2 separate regions of the Homo sapiens genome follow, and region 2 is linked to region 1. The links come from fine-mapping of genetic effects on gene expression. A gene starts in region 1. The other region holds a variant in brackets. All regions are shown on one strand. Distances are between the middles of the regions. Region 1 holds the start of CLCN1 (chloride voltage-gated channel 1). Region 2 overlaps CLCN1 (chloride voltage-gated channel 1).

Region 1 (12,120 bases):
GTGATCCTGTAAATATATGCAGGTGTGGGCCCATCTCAGTTTGCGTAGTCCTGGGATTTCTCACAGATGAAATGGAAGTTATTAGCAAACAGTGCTGGTTCTTGATTATTTAGACTATGAGATGTAGGCTGCCATAACAGATTGGGCTGGAATAGAAGGATGGGAGAGTGAAGATAGTAAAATTCCATTTCTTACCTGGTTGCATTTAAGGTCTTCTAGAGTGGGCATAGATTGTAAGAGAATTCTAGTGCAGCATAGAAGAGATCAAAGCAATGAATTTGTGTAAGTTGGGATATTTTGGGGGTGCATTGTATCTAAAGGATATGCCTGAGAGGTAAGTGCAGGTGCAGATGGGCCATGGAATTTGGCAAGAGATGGAATGTTCTGTAGGAACTTTGTACAGAAGTTTTGGTAGGAAACAAAACTTTTTTTTTTAAATACGGGATTTCACCATGTTGGCCAGGCTGGTCTCTAACTCCTGGCCTCAAGTGATCAGCCCGCTTCGGCCTCCCAAAGTGCTAGGATTATAGGTATGAGCCACCTATAACAAACCAGAAACAAAACTTTTTTGTTTGGTAGGAAACAGCTGTGGGAGCTGGAAATATTGTTGAGTCATACAGAGAAGGGTATGGCAGTCTAGGAAGAGCAGAAGGGGATTGAGGTGAGCTGAAGCACCTCGGCAGATAGAGCAGAATTTGGTACAGAACACTGGAGACAAAAGGGCATGAAAAATGGACTGAAACTGGTTGGTTGTACTGCAAGAAAAACAACCATGGGATAGCCTCAAGGGAAGGATACAAAATCTAGGACAGGCGAAGAAATTATGGAAATAGTGGAAGTAAGATAAATACCCATTTTCAGGATAGGAAGCATTTTCAGTGGTGTGATATGTTTGAGAATTACAGAGCAGTATCTCTGAACTGGATTCCATGTCCTCCCCGCCCCCCAACCCCCTTGCCCTTGAATAAGGGTATGAGGTTGAATTTCACAGCTCTGCTCCCTTCTGCTTACCTCTGCCAGAGGATTCTCTTCTAAAATTATTCCCCTCCCAGAGCTGGGGGCTGCCCTCTGCTGCCCTCCTCCATCCTGTTTCCTCTAATAGGGAAAAGGAAAACAGGAAGAAGGAAAAACTGTAATATCAGACCAAAGCTGATTTTTTTTTAATTTTTAAAATTTTATTCTATAAAATAGAGATGAGGTCTCACTATGTTGTTCACACTGGTTTCAAACATCTGGGTTCAAGTGATCCTCCTACCTCGGCCTCCCAGAGTACTGGGATCACAGACATGAGCCACCACACCCAACCAAAGCTGTGATATTAAGAATGGTGCCAGACTGGCCGGGCGCAGTGGCTCATGCCTGTAATCCCAGCACTTTGGGAAGCTGAGGCAGGTGGATCACCTGGGCTCAAGAGTTTGGGACCAGCCTGGGCAAAATGGCAAAACCCCGTCTCTAAAAAATAAAGAATGAGGCCAGGCACAGTAACACATACGTATAGTACCAGCTACTCAAGAGGCTAAGGAGAGAGGATTGCTTGAGCCCAGGAGTTGAAAACCAGCCTAGGCAACATAGTGAGACCCCCATCTTTAAAAAAAAAAAAAAAAAAACACACACACAACACAAGAGGAAAGACGTCTAATCTGAGAAGGAGGAAGACATTAATAATAGCTACAACTGTTTGAGTCCTTGGTATGTTGTAGGCATTGAGAGGAGCTTTCCATTTCATCTTCCCCATGCTTCTGTGAAGGAGTCATTTTCCCTTTTGTTTTTGAAACAATTTTGCTGTTGTTGCCCAGGCTGGAGTACAATGGCGTGATCTCAGCTCACTGCAACGTCTGCCTCCCAGGTTCAAGCGATTCTCCTGTCTCAGCCTCCCGAGTAGCTGTGATTACAGGCACACGCCACCACACCCAGCTAATTTTTGTATTTTTAGTAGAGATGGGATTTCACCATGTTGCCCAGGCTGGTCTTGAACTCCTGAGCTCAGGTGATTCACCCACCTCAGCCTCCCAAAGTGCTGGGATTATAGGCGTGAGTGAGCCACCGCGCCTGGCCACAAATGTAGCTTTAACGGTATGGACTCTAGAATTCAGTAGATCTGATTTTGAATGCCGGCTCTGCCTTTGAAGATATTGGAGACCTTGATCAAGGTAGCTAACACAGCCCCAATTTCCCTTATTTGAAAATGAGGAAAATTGTGTCTACCTTCCAATGTCCCTATGAGGATTAAATGTGATGATGCATGTAAATCACATGGTGTTAATGCATAAAAAATGCTTGATAAATGTTAACTCACAGAATGAGCTTCAGTTTAATATGAGTGAACAGTTCTTACTATGAATCAAACACTATAGCACATTTTTGTTTTGTTTTGAGATGGGGTCTCACTCTGTCGTGAGGCTGGAGTGCAGTGGTGTGATCTCGGCTCACTGCAATCTCCGTCTCCCGGGTTCAAGTGATTCTCCTACCTCAGCCTCCCGAGTAGCTGGGATTACAGGCGCACGCCACCACGCCCAGCTAATTTTTGTATTTTAAGCACAGACGGGATTTCACCATGTTGGCCAGGATGGTCTCAATCTCTTGACCTCGTTATCCACCCACCTTGGCCTCCCAAAGTGCTGAGATTACAGGTGTGAGCCACCGCACCCAGCCTATAGCATGTTTTTTTGCATGTGTTATTTTATCTTCTTAACCCTCTAGTTACTTCCTTTCTGAGGAAACTGAGGTCAGGATGTGAAACCAAAGCTGTCAGTTTGAGCGTATGCTAACAGCCTTGCTTCTGTGACTTATTCTGGCATGAAGGATTTTTTTCTTCCTTTTTTTGGGCTGTAAGATTCCTCCCATTGGGCTGTGGGAATGAAACTGAGACCCAAACCTTATTCCATCTTAAGTCCTAATTAGGTAGGAGTTTGGGGGAAAATGTATCATGTTTGAAAAGCCAGAAGGGGGAGAAGGAGACCTGTCGAATACTACAGGGAAAGCCTGACGTGCAGGGGATGGGAAAGGACTAAGGATGCTTAAAGAATAAGGAGGCTGGCTGGGCGTGGTGGCTCACGCCTGTAATCCCAGCACTTTGGGAGTCCGAGGCGGGCGGATCATGAGGTCAGGAGATCTAGACCATCCTGACTAACACGGTGAAACCCCATCTCTACTAAAACATACAAAAAATTAGCTGGGCGTGGTGGCGGGCGCCTGTAGTCCCAGCTACTCCGGAGGCTGAGGCAGGAGAATGGCGTGAACCCGGGAGGCGGAGCTTGCAGTGAGCCGAGATCGCGCCACTGCACTCCAGCCTGGGCGACAGAGCGAGACTCCGTCTCAAAAAAAAAAAATAAAAAAGAATAAGGAGGCAAGCCACAATAAAGAGGAGAGGAGACATGACCGCCAGTGGCATACAATACAAAGTGTCTTCAGAGGAAGTTGTAGCTTAGCTGAAATTTCAGAAAGTAGGTGGCCACGGGTTCCATGGCTGCCTGGATATGCAGAGGGAAAGTGATGACTGAAAACACCTTTAAAGAACATAAGGGTTTTACTGCCCACTATGCTGGGGAGGCCAGACTGGAAGACGTGAGAGTCTGAAAACAAGGGTGTAACCCAGAAAGAAAATTCTTTCACCTATACCCAACACAAAACTTCTCCTCCATGTATCTTGCATGGCAACTTTTTACGATTTTCCTTCAAATAGCAATTCTATAAGCCTATGGGCTTTTAAACTTTTTGTATAATGGACCCTAGGATGATCTATTTAAAACCCCAAAAGAGGCCGGGTGCAGTGGCTTACACCTGTAATCCCAACACTTTGGGAGGCCAAAGCGGGCAGATTACCTGAGGTCAGGAGTTCAAGACCAGCCTGGCCAACATGGTGAGAAACCCATCTCTACAAAAATACAAAAATTAGCCGGGCATGACCGTAAGTGCCTGTAATCCCAGCTACTCGGGAGGCTGAGGTGACAGAATCGCTCAAACCCGGGAGACGGAGGTTGCAGTGAGCAGAGATCGCGCCATTGCACTCCAGCCTGGGTGACAGTGAGACACCATCTCAAAAAATAAATAAATAAAATAAATAAAACCCGAAAGAATATATATCATTTATGCATGCTTATGAATTTGCTTCCACATTCAGGAGCCTTACAGGAATCCCTAGAAGCCCATCTTTGTGCCTCCAAATAAGAACCTAAGCTACTAAGCCCAGCGGGATGATGGAGTGAGGAGTGGGCATGGTTTACATTTTCTTTTCTTGTTCTCTTGCAGGGATTTAAACCCATGGGATTTAAACTATTCCTAATTTCAAACACAGGATATTTACTCTCAAACCCTTGCCCACCAGCACTGGCAGTCTGTACATGTCTTTGACCCTCCTAATTTCAGAATCTGGTTTTAAGAATCGCAGTTGGTGCTTTCCTTCTAGACCACACGCTTCCACTCAGCTTGGCTGGATGTGAGCACTTCCCTACTCCACTGGTCTCTGCCTTCAAATCTCAGAGTCCATGACTAGGCTGCTCTGTTTTAGGGCCCTGTCTTTCTCAGAAATAGTAAGAAAGTCATAATTGTATCTCATATCTTGCTGCTTATATTTATCAAGTTTCTACAGCAACTGATCACTTTCAGGAAAGCTATACTCCTCAAATGGGAGAATCTTGTTTCTGAAGTCCTCCAAGGAATGCAGTGTTACCTTGGCACTCTATTTTTTTGTGTGTGCAACAATGTCTTTTATTATGTATGCGGTTTTAAAATTATTTCTTGAATCTCTCCATACACAGGCAAAAAATAAGTGTGCTACTTAACATACTGGAACTTGCCTAACTTAATCATTGCCCAGAGAAGGGAAAATTATCACCAAAATGTGCTTAACCAGGAGGCCAATGCATCTGCCAACCTCCAAGAACATGGAGATGAACTTGACAGACAGACTGTCCACCATCTGAACCTTTATTCACCACCATTTGATAACCCTTATTCAGGCCCAAATCAGCAGCACATTTCTTGCCAACAATCATTAAGTGTCCAAGAAGACTTTCGTCATTATCTTCTGCTGCAGAAATCTGGGATATATGTTTTTTCGATATCAACAGAAAACGTGTTGGTGCTTGAGGGGAAGTGTCATGGAAAGCAAGGCACTGGTCATCCTCAAAAATGATTTTGGCTGGGATTTCCTTGCAGATGATCTTCCCGAAGACAGTGTTGCCACCAGGCCGAGCGACCTGAGCCTTGGCGATCTCACCTGCCATCTCTGCCTGTCTCCCACACAGCAGGCAGGGTAGAGGCTCAGAAGGAGGGAGGAACCCACAGATTCTATTTTCTTTGTTAAGAAAGTAATCCTTTCTGCTCATACCAATCCCATAGATGTCTATCCTTATTTTCTGCCTGCAGAAAAGGTGGGTATCATCACAGAATGTTTAGTCTCTCAATTCATCACACATTTGTAATTTTTTGGAGAGATTATAGGCCTTGAGGTTTGTAGGATTGTTGTTAGAGCAGGTGTTTTGTTTTTTTTTTTTTTTAGCTACATTGGTGTATAATTGACAACTAGAAATTATACATATTTAATTACTACTTGAGACCGTGATTACAGCAGTTACTACTGTTACCACTTGAAACCATCATTATGACCGAACAAAGGGACGAATGTAGAAATGAAAACTTAAGACAAAAGAAACTGTTTTAAGGAAAGGCAACATGAAGAAGAAGAGAGCTCCCTGCTTCTAGTGAGCAAAGGCAGCTCCCCTGCCGAGCTTCTCAGCCCTTCATATTTACTGGGTAACAAGAACAAGAAGGAGGTAACGATTGGTCAGCTGCTGAATTGATCACAGGTTCATATTGTTACTGACAAGCTTCAATTGTACCTAATCATAAGAAACATTTGTGCGGCCTCCAACAATGTACAACTTGATGTGTTGATATATGTGTACATTGTGAATGATCATCACAATCAAGCCGGTTAACATATCCATCACCTCACATAGTTGCTTTGGGGGTGCAGGGAGGTGAGAACATTCAAGATCTACCCTCTTAGCAAATTTCAAGTATGTGGTATTACTACCTATAGTTACCATGCACATTAGATCTCCAGGACTTTCTCATCTTGTATAAGTGAACCTTGTATCCTTTGACCAAATTTCCCCATTCTCCCACCCCCTACTCCAGCCCAGCCCCTGGCAACTACCCTCTACTTTCTGCTTCTATGAGTTTGACTATTTTAGATTCCACATACAAGTGCAATCATGCAGTATTTTTCTTTCTGTGTCTGCAATGTTTGACTTAGCGTAATGTCCTCCAAGTTCATCCATGTTGTCACAAGTGGCAGGATTTTCTTCTTTGTCAGGGTTGAATAGTATTCCATTATATATATTTATATACACATGACATTATTCATCTGTTAGTGGACACTTAGGTTGTTTCCATTTCTAGGCTATTGTGAATAATGCTGTAATGAACATGGGAGTGCAGATACCTCTTTGAGATACTGATTTCCTTTCCCTTGGATGTATGGGAGTTGCTGAGTCATATGGCAGTTCTGTTTTTACCTTTTGAGGAACTTTTATACTGTTTTTCATAATGACTATACCAGTTTACATTCCCACCAACAGTGCACAAGGGTTCCCTTTTCTCTGCATTCTCACTAACATTTATCTCATCTTTTTATTTAATTTTTTTTTGAGACATAATCTCACTCTGTAGACCAGGATGGATTGCAGTGGTGCCTTCCCAGCTCACTGCAGCCTCCACCTCCCGGGCTTCAGTGATCCTCCTGTCTCAGCCTCCCAAGTAGCTGGGACTACAGGCGTGCACCACCACACATGGCTGATTTTTATAATTTTTATAGAGACAGGGTCTCCCCATGTTGCCAGGTTGGTCTCGAACTGCTGGGCTTAAGCATTCCACCCGCCTTGGTCACCCACATTGCTGGGATTATAAGCATGAACCATAATATCCATAGCCATAATAATGGCTATCTCTTGCTTTTTTGATAATAGCCATCCTAACAGGTATGAGGCGATATTGCATTATGATTTTGGTTTCCTGATGATTAATGATGTTGAGGCCCTAGAAAAAGTACTTTTAATGATATTGGCTTCCCTCCTGCTTTGGGTGGTTCCATTTAGCCTAGGTCAAAATCACATTGTAGACCAGATGTTTGGTGTCCCTACCCTGCAGTCCCTGAACTTGGACTGTCCTGGGACAGACCCCACTTGGTAATGCATCCTAAACTTTACTTTGGCTCAGTTCATATCTTTTCTCCTACAGTGAAGAGTTCATAGGGAAGACATGTCATAGGAAAATTGGTTTTATAACGTGATGCCAGGAAGAAAAGTTTGTCCTTGGCCAAAAAAGTATTTATTGACCTGAAAAGGGAAGAATAGCAGAGAGCACTTCCCCATCATCTTTCATGTTTGTCGGGCTTGTCATGAGAAGCCCTCACCCCTTTCCCACCTCTCCCTTCCCTGTGCCTCTTTCTACTTTCGATTCTCCCCTGTTATCTCCCTTGTTATCTATCTGATGGAGCCAGTGTGGGCACTCCACAGTCCAAATGGAAGCTCAGTCCCTCCGGGTTGGCAGTGTGGCTGACACCTAACAGTCTGGGAAGTGGGAGAAATTCTAGAACCCAAGGCTATTACCGACCCTCGACTTCCCACTTCCCATAAGTGTTCCACACCCAGTGAGTGATAAGGATGGGATCAGGGGATGCCCCCAAGCTGTTATTAGCAGCCTCTGGCAGACAGAAGGGCAAAGAGCTAGAGAAGAACGCTGGACATGGGATGGGCTGGCAGAGCTGGCCAGACAGAACCCTGGGTGGACACAGAGTTGGGAACAAGCTGGCCAGGAGATGTGGCAGAGAGGCACCAGTTACTTTCCCAGGTGAGTTAATGTGCCAGTGTTTCCAGAACTTCGAGTCGCTTCATCTTTATCCAGCACCCACCCCTCACCTTCCGCATCCTGAAGAAGAGAGATGGGCAACTGGAGGGCTTCCATGCAGATCCGGCTCTACACATAGGTTTGAGAGCATACTCAGCAGTTTCTCATCCTGGTCCAGGCGATATTTATAGAGGGACCAGTGACATGGAGCTGGAAGCCTACTACTGGTGACTAAGAAGGGGGACAATGCCACTGGCTCAGCAGAGGGAATTCCCTGTGGGGCTGTCCCTCAGGTTCTCATCCCAACCCCCACCCCCACACTGCACTCACACCTGCTTCGACCCCAAGCAGATCAGATGTGGCAGTGGGGGGTCATGTGACGGAGAGGGGTCTATAAATAGCTGGAGGTGGGCATGCTGCCCCAGACGCCTTGGGGACAGCAAGAGCAGAGGCTTAAGGAGCTACACTGGGGGAAGGACAGGGGCAAGCAGGCCAAGGCCTGGCCGGGGCTCGGGGGGAGGGAATATGGAGCAATCCCGGTCACAGCAGCGTGGGGGTGAACAAAGCTGGTGGGGTAGTGACCCCCAGTACCAGTATATGCCCTTTGAACACTGCACCAGCTACGGACTGCCCTCTGAGAATGGGGGCCTCCAGCACAGGCTCCGGAAGGATGCAGGCCCCCGCCACAACGTCCACCCCACACAGGTAAAGTGCTCTAAGGGGAGAGGGGAGCCATGGATGAGGGGAGACAGTGGTGCCAGAGACTGGTGAAAATGAGGAATTGGGTGAAAAGAGGGAGCAGTGTTACATTTTTTTAACTTAAAAAACAAGTACGTGGTGATGTGTTCAAAATATGAAAATCTTTGAAAGTCTGGGCTCACTTAAGTATGCACTTAGAGAGATATGCATGCACTTTCATACAACCTTTACCAACAGAGTACCCAAATCATATGGGGAAACAGCAGAGCCTCACATGCATGAATAGCTCGTGCTTACATAACCTACGTGGAGTGGATTGCGTAGGAGCCCACACTGCAGTGTGCTGGGAGCTGTCTCCCACACCCTCACCCACAGGTAGACACTGCCAGATTTCTGCCTCTGGGACCCTCTGCAGAATACACACAAACATGAATCTTTCTGCAGAAGGCAGAAGAAAGGAATTGGGCAAGTGTAGAAAACAGACTGAATTGCTTATCAGTGATCAAAGATCTACCAACGTCAAAATGAGCAGAGATGTACAAGCTTTTAGGTCGCAAGATGATCAAGTAAGAACCTATTAAGTGTTAGGCACCTGGAAAAGGGCAGAGATGTGATCCCAGCAACAGAAGCATGCAGGCTAATTAGGAGTGTCTATGGATGAGCAGCCTCCCGCTGTGGGATTGGTGGGATATGAACACCTAGGAAAGGGGGAATGGGGATGGGCACAACTAAAGGAAAGGTTGTGAAATTGTCATGGAAAAAGATAGGTCATGGTTAATAAGTAAGTGTGCCTCTCCCTCCAAAGAATGCAGAGAATAACAGAGGATAGAATTTGTCTAGAGGGCAGTTGGCCAGAACTTTTTTTTTTTTTTTTTTTTTTGAGATGGAGTCTCGCTCTGTCTCCCAGGCTGGAGTGCAGTGGTGCTATCTTGGCTCACTGCGACCTCCGCCTCCCGGGTTCAAGCAATTCTCTTTCCTCAGCCTCCTGAGTAGCTGGGATTACAAGCACCTGCCACCATACCTGGCAAATTTTTGTACTTTCAGTAGAGACGGGGTTTTGCCATGTTGGCCAGGCTGTCTCGAACTCCTGACCTCAGGTAATTCACCCGCCTTGGCCTCCCAAAGTGCTGGAATTACAGGTGTTAACCACTGTGCCCAGTCTGGTCAGAACTTAAAAGGCTTTTTTTTCTTTCTTTTTTTTTTTTTTAACAGGGAGCCTTCAGTTCCTTTAGGTTTAAGGCTGGGAAGCTGAGGCATGAGCTATGCAGGGGATCTCAGCACTGGGGGTCAAAAGGATCTGCTCTCAGTCCCTGACCAACCCCCAGGAGTATTTGCAAAGGCAGCGCTAGGGACCCAGTAGGGAAGAGGGACATACAGGTCAGTGTAGGCTGGAATCGAGCATTGGGAAGGTTTCTTGGAGACAGCGGGGTCTGACTAGGCCTTTGAACACTGTGTGGGATCAGCAGGAGGGAAGACCCCTCCCCCTGGCCCTGTGTTCTCACTCGTGTACATGGTTGTATCTGGGTGGGATGGCAACTTGAGTAACAGTGCCATTATGGCACTTCCTGATGACAGTTCTCGTGTTGGGAAGCTATGGTTAGTTTGGGGAGTAGAATTGGCCTGTTTTCTACAGGTCTCAAAAGTAAACAAGAGTTTGGATTAGTTTTTCTTTGTTTAATTTTTATTATGGAAGACTTACACAAAAATGGAATGGTATAGTGAAGCCCCAAGTACCCACCAGTTGTCAATATTTTGTCACTATTGTTCCATCTATTCTTCCCTTCCCCACCCTCACCACTCTACACACCATGGAATACTTTTTTTTTGTTTTTTGTTTTTTGTTTTTTGTTTTTGAGATGGAGTTTCGCTCTTGTTGCCCAGGCTGGAATGCAATGGCGCGATCTCAGCTCACCGCAATCTCCGCCTCCCTGGTTCAAGCAATTCTCCTGCCTCCGCCTCCCAGGTAGCTGAGATTACAGGCATGCGCCACCATGCCTGGCTAATTTTTGTATTTTTAGTAGAGACGAGGTTTCTCCATGTTGGTCAGGCTGGTCTTGATCTCCTGACCTCAGGTAACCTGCCCATCTCAGGCTCCTAAAGTGCTGGGGTTACAGGGGTGAGCCACTGAGCCTTGCTTCCACCTTGGAATACTTTTTAACAAATCCCAGACATTGTATCACTTGTAGACTTGAGTTTTGACTTCTCCCTTGCCCTCCCCTCACCCTGCCCTGCATGGGACCAGCCAGAACAGATCTGGCCCTTTAAGTGTTTTCCCAGCCCAGGTATGATGATATGAAGCAACCCCCTTCCTTGTCTCCACTGGCCTGGGGCCTTGAGGAGCTGAGACAGCCTCAGCTGTCTGACTTCCACTGGGAAGTATGTTCTCTCTCTGGGTCCCACGCAGGGTTTGGAAGGAAACACTGCCTCCCTCGGTCACTGACCCAGAAGACAAACAGCCATGAGCAGGGCAATTCATGTGCGTGCTTGTTCAGGACTGCGGTGTAAAATGCTGCTCATATTGTGAAATCAGATCTCTTCTACTCAGGCTCTCCCAGAATCCAGCAACATGGCCTGGCCTGACCCTGGCCCCAGAGGACAGTTAGTGTAGTGGGAGTGGGGCAGGCTAAAAGTGGTTGGAGCTCTTGTATACCCCACACAGACACACGTGCTCTGCCTCAGGATGGAAGCGGAGGGCCACCAGACCTGGGGGAGCTGCTCTGTCCTCTTCACATGTGGGGCAGGTAGGGGTCTAATTATCTAGCTGTGGGAAGAAGTAGATGGACCTGCCTTTTCGGGCTAGTTCTTGTGTGTGCATACAAGCACTGGGAGATGAAGTGGATGGTCTTGAAGCTTGATAGAGGACCTGAGGTGCCTCAGGTAAGGCTAGACACACCAAGGCAAAGTGCAACCAAGACTGCCCTGCTAGTTAGCCCAGTCTGTCCTCACCCTGTTCATGTTAGGAGAAAAGTCAATGCAAGTGGTCTGGGGAAATTGTGGGACATACAGAAAGCGCAGTGACACAAAACACCTGATTGATATGGCCACCTGGGTTCAGCACAGTTCTGTACCTCTGCTTCAAAGCAAAAACTGGCCTCCTTGATAAAGGCTACCCTGGATCAAGGTGAGTACAGGTTGGAGAATGGGTGTAGAGAAGGTAGGATGAATGAACAAGGGAAAGGGTGGGAAGTGTGGGAATGGAGGGTGGAGAGTAGAGGGCAGGGATGACCACAAAGTCACCCTGCATGCAGTCAACACCCAGAATTCAAAAAGCTGTTGTTCTTTTCTTCTGTGAGTCTGTCTGCTGGCCTCTGTCTATTATTTTTTTAGTCTTCCACAAGGCAGACACTGATCATTCTCTCTCTGTCCAGATTTATGGCCATCACAAAGAACAATTCTCAGACAGGGAGCAGGACATAGGGATGCCCAAGAAGACAGGCTCCAGTTCTACCGTGGACAGCAAGGATGAGGATCACTATTCTAAATGTCAAGGTGATGGGGACTGAGGAATAAAGAAATCTGGAGTAGAAACAGGTACAGGGATTAGGAGAATAACTTGGGCATCCCATTGCA
Region 2 (8,053 bases), 33 kb after region 1:
GAGGCCGAGGTGGGCAGATCACCTGAGGTCAGGAGTTCGAGACCAGCCTGACCAACATGGAGAAACCCTGTCTCTACTAAAAATACAAAATTAGCTAGGTGTGGTGGTGCATGCCTGTAATTAGAACCCGGGAGACGGAGGTTGCGATGAGCCGAGAACGTGTCATTGCACTGCAGCCTGGGCAACAAGAATGAAACTCTGTTAAAAAAAAAAAAATTTCCCACTAAATACAGTCAATTCTCATAATTCATGGTAGTTATGTTCAATTAAGTATGAAGTTCAAATACTATACTGAATAATTGCTCCTAGGAAAAATACAGGGCTGTGTTCCTGTGAGTCTCTGGTCACATTTCCATCAACCAATCAATATATGACCTTGTTGTATGTGTGTTTCTGGTAAAGACACCTTATTTCACAGATATTGTGGATTAATTAATATTGAACTTGTGCCAACAGCACTATAACCCTTGCCTGAATTAAGCTTACTTAACACACATATTTTCTCAATAAGGCTCATCACAGCCTTCTTGCACTAGGAACAGTAAACAGCACTTTGACATTATATTTGGTGGTCATTTTTAGCAGCAAAATCACCAACACAAAGCACAAAAATGCAAAAAGGATGGCACTAAATAGACTACAAAATGAACACCTGTTTACAATGTGAAAGCTGAAACAAGAAGGTACAGCACTGCTTTGTTCAACTTCAGCTGGGAACAGGGACATGGGACAACTAAAAATCTTTGTTGCTCTTTGCATGTTTGTGAATTACAGTGAAAGCACCTCTAGTATTGGTTTTGTGTTACAAATATATTTTAGTGACTAGCTGAATTCACAAATAGGGAATCCATGAATAATGACAATTAATGTAAATCCCATAGCTTCTTACGTTGTTCCATTTTGATGCTTACATAAGTCATGCTTGTTCTTTAATGCCCAACTTATGGAAGAGTTGGAACTGTTTTCTTTCTTCCTTCCTTTCTTTCTCTTTCTTTCTTTCCTTCTTTTTCTTTCTTTCTCTTTCTCTCTCTCTCCCTCCCTCTTTCCCTCTCTCTCTCTTTCTCTCTCCCTCCCTCTTTCCCTCTCTCTTTCTCTCTCTCTCTTTTCTTTTCTTTTCTCTTCTTTCTTTTCGACAGAGCCTCACTCTGTTGCCCAGGCAGGAGTGCAATGGCGCCATCTTGGCTCACTGCAACCTCTGTCTCCTGGGTTCTAAGTGATTCTCCTGCCTTAGGCTCCTGAGTAGCTGGGATTACAGGAATGCACCACCATGCCCAGCTAATTTTGTATTTTTAGTAGAGACGGGGTTTCACCATGTTGGCCAGGCTGGTCTCGAACTCCTGACCTCAGGCGATCCACCAGCCTTGGCCTCCCAAAGTGCTGGGATTACAGGCATGAGCCACTGTGCCCGGCTGGAACTGTTTCACATGGAGGAGTGAATGGTTGTTAGTAAACGATAATTTCACATTTCTCTGCCTTCACCATCATTTGACACTTCATCCTGCTTTGTATGATTTCTTATTGTGGTTTATATATCTATATCTTGTCTTCCTAACTAGGTGGGCATTCCTTGAGAATAGAGGCTATGAATTCTATATACCCAGAGTGCCTTGTTATAGGTATCTACTAGATATTAAATGAATAATTTCCTAGTGTTTGAATTAGTGTAATAAAGAAAAATCATGTAGGGCCATTTGGAGTCATTAAGATTGTTAGTTCTGATTTCCAATAATCAGAATATCCAAATTTCTCAAATTAAATTAATTCAAATATTTTCCCAAATCTCATATACATTCCACGTTCTACAGCAGAGGCTCTTTATTAGAGGAGGGGTACAGCCAACAAATGAGGGGCAAGGTTTTCATAATAATGACTGAGACCTAACAGTAAAATTCATCTCCAGAGCACTGCTGCAATGTCTTGGCCTTAAAACTTAATAAAAATGTTAACTATAGTAGCAAAATTTCTATAATCATATAAAAGACCTTCTCAGGAAAAGTAGGCATTTTGATTTATCCTAGCAGGGTTTTTTTTTTTTTTTTTTAATGAAATCTCGCTCTTGTCGCCCAGGTTGGAGTGCAGTGGTGCGATCTCAGCTCACTGCAACCTCTGCCTCCCGGGTTCAAGCGATTCTCCTGCCTCAGCCTCCCAAGTAGCTGGGATTACAGGCGCCTGCCACCACGCCCAGCTAATTTTTTTATTTTTGGTAGAGACGGGGTTTCACCATGTTGGCCAAGGCTGGTCTCGAACTCCTGACCTCAGGCGACCCGCCTGCCTCGGCCTTCCAAAGTAGTGGGATTACAGGCGTGAGCCACCGCCTGGCCCAGGTTTTTTAAATGATGAAATGTCAGATACAAAAGAAAGAGTTCCCTTGTTTCCCTTTTTCCAGGGAGAGATATAATGTTTGTATTGCTTATAGACTTCTTTCAAAGCGTGTTCACGTCTCAGCTTATTTGAATGGCTTCTCATGTTTCTTTTTATTTGGACAGCATTGATTAGCCTCCTTAATTATCAGCTCACCTATCTGAAGTCTATATAAGGCCTCATCAAAATAAGTACAAATTAGCCCAATTAGTGCTCTACCAATTGGCCCCGTACCTGCTAAATGGATGAAATAAAAGGGATTGAGTGAGGTTAATCTTGGAGGATTCTTAAAATGAGTTTCCAGGAAGCTGAGAAAGATGTGGGGACGCCGGGCAGGGTGGCGCCTCTCCTGTTCCTTCTCAGGAGTGCGGAGCGCGGTGGTGCGAGAGGGCTTGGAGGGGGCGCTCAGGCAGGGCGTGGGTTTCCCTCAGATTCAATGATCCTGCTGGGCTCGGTGGAGCGGTCGGAACTGCAGGCCCTCCTGCAGCGCCACCTGTGTCCTGAGCGCAGGCTGCGCGCAGCCCAAGAGATGGCGCGGAAGTTGTCGGAGCTGCCTTACGACGGGAAGGCGCGGCTGGCTGGGGAGGGGCTCCCCGGCGCGCCTCCAGGCCGGCCCGAGTCCTTCGCCTTTGTGGATGAGGATGAGGACGAAGACCTCTCTGGCAAGAGCGAGGTGACCGCGCCGGGAAGGGCTAGGGAGTGGGATAGATCAGGAGCAAAGGGAAAAGCGTCGTCTGGGCTGGGCTGGGCTGGGCTGGGACAGGCGTAGTTTCCCTGAAAGTAGTGGGAAGAGGGAGGGGAGAGTCTGGTAACTGAGAAAGCCAGAAATTCTGGATCAGGTACCATAGAGACCAGTGCCTCTGGGTCCAGGGACTAAAGAAGATAAGGTTGCAGATGATGGTATCCTCGACAATTCAAAGGGATATAGGAATTTCTGAACTGGGGGGAAGAATAGAGTTCGCTTTCCCAGAACATCCACCAACTGGTAAAGGCAGTGAAGGCCCAGGCAGTCTCTGCTCCCAGGCTGAGACTTCTTACTCTTCCTTACAGCTTCCTCCTTCCCTTGCTCTCCACCCCTCTACTACTGCCCCTCTGTCCCCAGAAGAGCCCAATGGGCCTCTGCCTGGCCACAAACAGCAGCCGGAAGCACCAGAGCCTGCAGGTGACGCTCTTCCCTCATGCACCCCAACTCACCCCTTGTGGGTTCTCTCTGGTCACTAGGACCTGACCTTGACCTGCATGCAATTCCTATGCGGGGTGGGGTGGGGGGTGAGGCTGGGGGATTGAGGGAGGACAGGGTTCTTATTCATCAATTCTCCTTGTTACTGTCCCAGGGAGTGGGAGCAGAGGGTGATTTAGGAGGGTAGAAGAGAGGGTGAGGTACCTGGGAAGTGCAGCTCTTTGGAGGCAAATGTTAGGCACTGGGTGGGGCCCCTGGCCGTTTCCTGTTGCTTTGTGTCCATTTCCATCCACTCACCTGTCCTCTCAGGTCAAAGACCCTCCATCTTCCAGTCCCTGCTTCACTGCTTGCTGGGCAGAGCTCGCCCCACAAAGAAGAAAACAACCCAGGTGAGAGGAGATGTGTTTGGGGATACAGGGGAAAGGGAGCCTGCCCTTGAAGAGTGAGAAACCCACGGTTCTTAAATCAGGAAGGCAGAGACCCCACCAAGGAGGAGGAGTTTAATCATATGGAAGGGATGATGAATGAAAAGGAGGCATCGGTGGTCCTGGCCAGGGAGGGATGGCTATTGTTTCA[T/C]TGGGAGCCATAGCTACCATGGGAAGAAAAGGGAAAGAACTTGGACCTATGTCTTTCTTCTCTAGGATTCCACAGATTTAGTGGATAACATGTCACCTGAAGAGGTGAGTAAGGGAAATGGAAACCTGGGGTGGATTGTTCTATCAAATGAAGATATTGCTAATTTGTTTCTACCTTCTTTATTGTGTTGTCATGAAATAGAATGTGGTCTGGATGGGAAGTGTTTTGAGAGGATGGAAATAAGGATGATTATGGAGAGAGTAATGAGTGTGTGATGGGACATGGAGGTGTTCTCAGAAGGACACGTCATTTCAGAAGAGAAAAACTTTGAGCCTCCATGAGTAAATGGGGCCATGGTGCTAAGATGAGCCCCAGATCTTTTAGAGATTATGGGCTTTCTGGATCAGGCAAAGCTTTAATGGAGGTAAAATGGCACCAGGAGGCTGGCACTAAAACAGCAACATAGAAGAAGAACATCAAAACTAAAATGGGAGGCCGGGCATGGTGGCTCATGCCTGTAATTCCAGCACTTTGGGAGGCCAAGGCAGGCAGATCACCTGAGGTCAGGAGTTTGAGACCAGCCTGGCCAACGTGGTGAAACTCCATTTCTACTAAAAATACAAAAATAAGCCGGGCATGGTGGCACGCACCTGTAATCCCAGATATTTGGGAGGCTGAGGCACGAAAATCACTTGAACCCGGGAGGTGGGGGTTGCAGTGAGCAGAGACTGCACCACTGCACTCCAGCCTGGGTGACAGATCCAGACTTTGCCTCAAAAAAAAAAAAAAAAAAAAAAACTAAAATGGAGAAATCTGCTCCTGGTGGAGATTACTGTGCTGGATTGATCAGGGCCCTGAGACAGTGAACAACTGGAAAATGCTAGGCATTGCTACTGGGAAGAACTGAAAAAGGAAGAAAATAATGACCACGGTGCCTCCTGGGGACAAACAAATGCCTATTTTCCTAAACGAGGTGGTTATCAAATCTTCAAGAGAGAAAAATCAAGCATTCTGAATGTGCTTGGTTGTCAGGAGGGAACAGAATGTGGACTAGTGATTGGAAGCAGGCGGTATCAGAACATACCGAGGGGTTGTGGAGGAACATCAACAGAAAAATCCATTGGCAACTATTCCATATGGTAAAAGAATGCAGAGTTTGCTGCAAACGCCGAAAACGTAAAGCTTGTAAAGTATGAAGCTGACAAAAAAAACACGGCAGATATTATTTTTAAATGAACATCTTATTGGATATCCAGAATAAATATGTGCTGACAATGAAAAGCATTACAGGATTGGAGGAGGATGTTGTGAGTGACAAGACAGAAGAGAAACCTTCCCCACCCCCTCAAAACACACACACTTCTGATAAATGACTTGTGAAAAAGTCAAATCGATGATCACAGAGGGAAAGGAAGAACTATTCCTTCTGCCCACAAGCAGGAATCAGAAAGGCCATAATTGCAGTTAAGGAGTACTTTGTTAGGTTGCTAAAACCAATAACAATAAGTTTTGCTTTTTTTCTTTTTTTTAATTTAATGCACCAAAGAGAGAAAACCAGCTAGTTGATCAGTGTGGCTATTGAATGACCACTGGAAATAAAGTGAAGCCAGGGATTAAAAATAAGATAGACTATCATTTCTAGCTTATGTCTTTCCCAGGGAAGACTTTAAGGAGCTACCAACTCCCATGTGACCCACTGAGACATTTTAGAGGGATAAGATCTAACAGGAGTTGAAATTCAGGATGTTTTGAACACAATTTTCAGACCAGATGATACCCTTGACAATATCAAGATGTTGATATTGACCAAAAAAACAGTATGGGGGCAGTATGGGAATATTGAAAGATTCAATTATATGTTGCCAGAAGTCCCTACTAGGATTTGTTTAATTCTGCATACTCTGGAGTACACACAGAGCTCTGTTTCTAACCGGTACCGAGCTTATTCAAGTAGTGGAACACACCAGCCTCAACAGCAACGTCCTGCATCCCTTGCGCAAAAGCTGGAGATGTACCTGGAATACAAACAGCAGTCAAGGTTAGAAGCCCAGCTCCACCAATTACTGACTGTGTAATCCTGGGCAAATGACTTCAACATGCTGTGCCTCTGTTTCCTCATCTATAAAGTGAAGATAATGATAGAGTTATTAGAGAAGATTAAATGAGCTAAGACGGGTAAGTCAATTAGAATAATGCTTGGCAAAGAGGATGTACTTGATAATCATTCACTGAAAATGTTGCCGCGTTATTGTTAAGGAAAGGCAAAAACGGAACATAAGGCCACAGATGATCATAGAAAAGACCAAGAGGACGGGATGGACCAAACCATGGTTGGCAAGGTCTAGCCCCCGTCCTATACCTAAATCTTCTCTACAACACACCTGCTAAGTGGTCATCCATCCTATGCTATGTAACCTCTGTAATCCATTAGTCCGGAAGATGAGAGTATAGAGGAGTCATGATTGTAATCCAGAAATATCAGGACAGGACAGGTGGAGTGAGCATCACTACGGGCTACACACCAGATCCTAAACCTATATAATGCCCTTTGGTGATATTCTCTGAAGTTTGAGAGGTGTAGATTTGGACAAATAGGAAAATAGAGTTCTAGATCATTCAGAGGATACTGACTGAAAAGAGATTTTAGAAATTTTAGAAAAATGTAAGAGAGCCAGAGATGTAATGGATTATTTGGACTCTTGGGAATTTTGGTGTGCGTATCTAAAGTCAAGAGGATGGTTGGCCTTTGTGCCTTAATGCTTCTGTCATAGACAAAAACAAACAAACAAAAACTGGCTTTGCTCAAGTCAGCTAAGTGCCATGAGGTCCAGTATAGCTCTTCAATTTCAACAAGTACCCACTACAGTTCCCTGCATGAGAGGTGATGTGCTAGTTTCTTCACAATATACAGCAGCCGATACCACATAACACTCAAGACAAATGCAGAGGTAAGACAGATGCCAATACAGCAGGAAGTATGGCCAATGTCATTTCTGAAAAGGTGAGACCAGCTAATACTATGGGAATAAAAAAGGGGAGAAGCACATCTGATTGGGAGAGTCAGGAAATACGTACACTGCAGGGAGAGGGTAGGGCAGGTAAAGGAACTCCAGATGGTCAGAATAGCAAAGACAAAGGGGAAGGCATGTTTGAAGAGCAGAAAGCAGTCTGGTTTGATTGGAGCCCCACGTCTTATAGTAGTAGTGGAAAATAGATGGGAAAGATAGGTTGGGAATAACAAATGTTTGGGACGCCAGGGGATAGGAGAGTTGGAGCCTAGAAGAGGGAGGGGTGTTCTGGGTACCTGGGGGTTGCAGGGTAGGTTGGGGGCCTGATGAGGAAGGGCAGAGAGGCTCTGTCCCCTGGGAAGAAGGAGGAGGTCCTCTGATCTGGGGGATCTATGATCAGTTCTTGCATGTTCCCAGATTCTGGGCAGCGGCTAGGAGGGCCGTTTGGGGTCAAAATCAGGTATCTGGGGTGAAAGGAGGCTCTGTGATTTTCGTGACTTTCCTCCTCTGGCTGACAGATTGAGGCCTGGGAGCAGGAGCAGCTGAGCCAGCCTGTCTGTTTTGATTCCTGCTGTATTGACCAGTCTCCCTTCCAGCTGGTGGAGCAGACAACCCTGCACAAGGTGAGTCTTTTGCTGACTGCTCAGGGCTGTGGGGAAGGCAGGAGAGCTGTGGGGCAAGGAACATGCACTGACCTGTGCTCTTCATCCTCAGACTCATACCCTGTTTTCACTCCTTGGCCTCCACCTCGCTTACGTGACCAGCATGGGGAAGCTCAGGGGCGTCCTGGCCCTGGAGGAGGTAATCACGATGTGTCCCATTTGAGCAGCAGGAGGGAGGCTGGGCATAGGATAAGGGGATGCAGTGGGGACAGAAGGAATATTAGCATCTCAGAAGTCCCCTCAGATTCCCTTCTCTATTTCTTTCT

The links.
Region 2: its variant is fine-mapped to the expression of CLCN1 in whole blood (INTERVAL, PIP 0.98).

The regions. Positions count from the first base shown.
Region 1 is chr7:143,307,837-143,319,956 of GRCh38, forward strand. It overlaps CLCN1 (chloride voltage-gated channel 1), which reads left to right and starts at 8,275. Exons shown (of 23, transcript NM_000083.3): 1 at 8,275-8,556; 2 at 11,919-12,039. The coding sequence starts at 8,377. It also overlaps the pseudogene HINT1P1.
Region 2 is chr7:143,342,729-143,350,781 of GRCh38, forward strand. CLCN1 (chloride voltage-gated channel 1) reads left to right here. Exons shown (of 23, transcript NM_000083.3): 17 at 2,793-3,034; 18 at 3,412-3,523; 19 at 3,851-3,930; 20 at 4,183-4,221; 21 at 7,644-7,748; 22 at 7,840-7,926. Among named protein-coding and RNA genes, the nearest start is that of FAM131B-AS1, 15 kb to the right of the region's middle. RefSeq lists silencers at 2,688-2,982, 2,789-2,868. The variant T/C (reference allele first, on the strand shown) is at 4,118.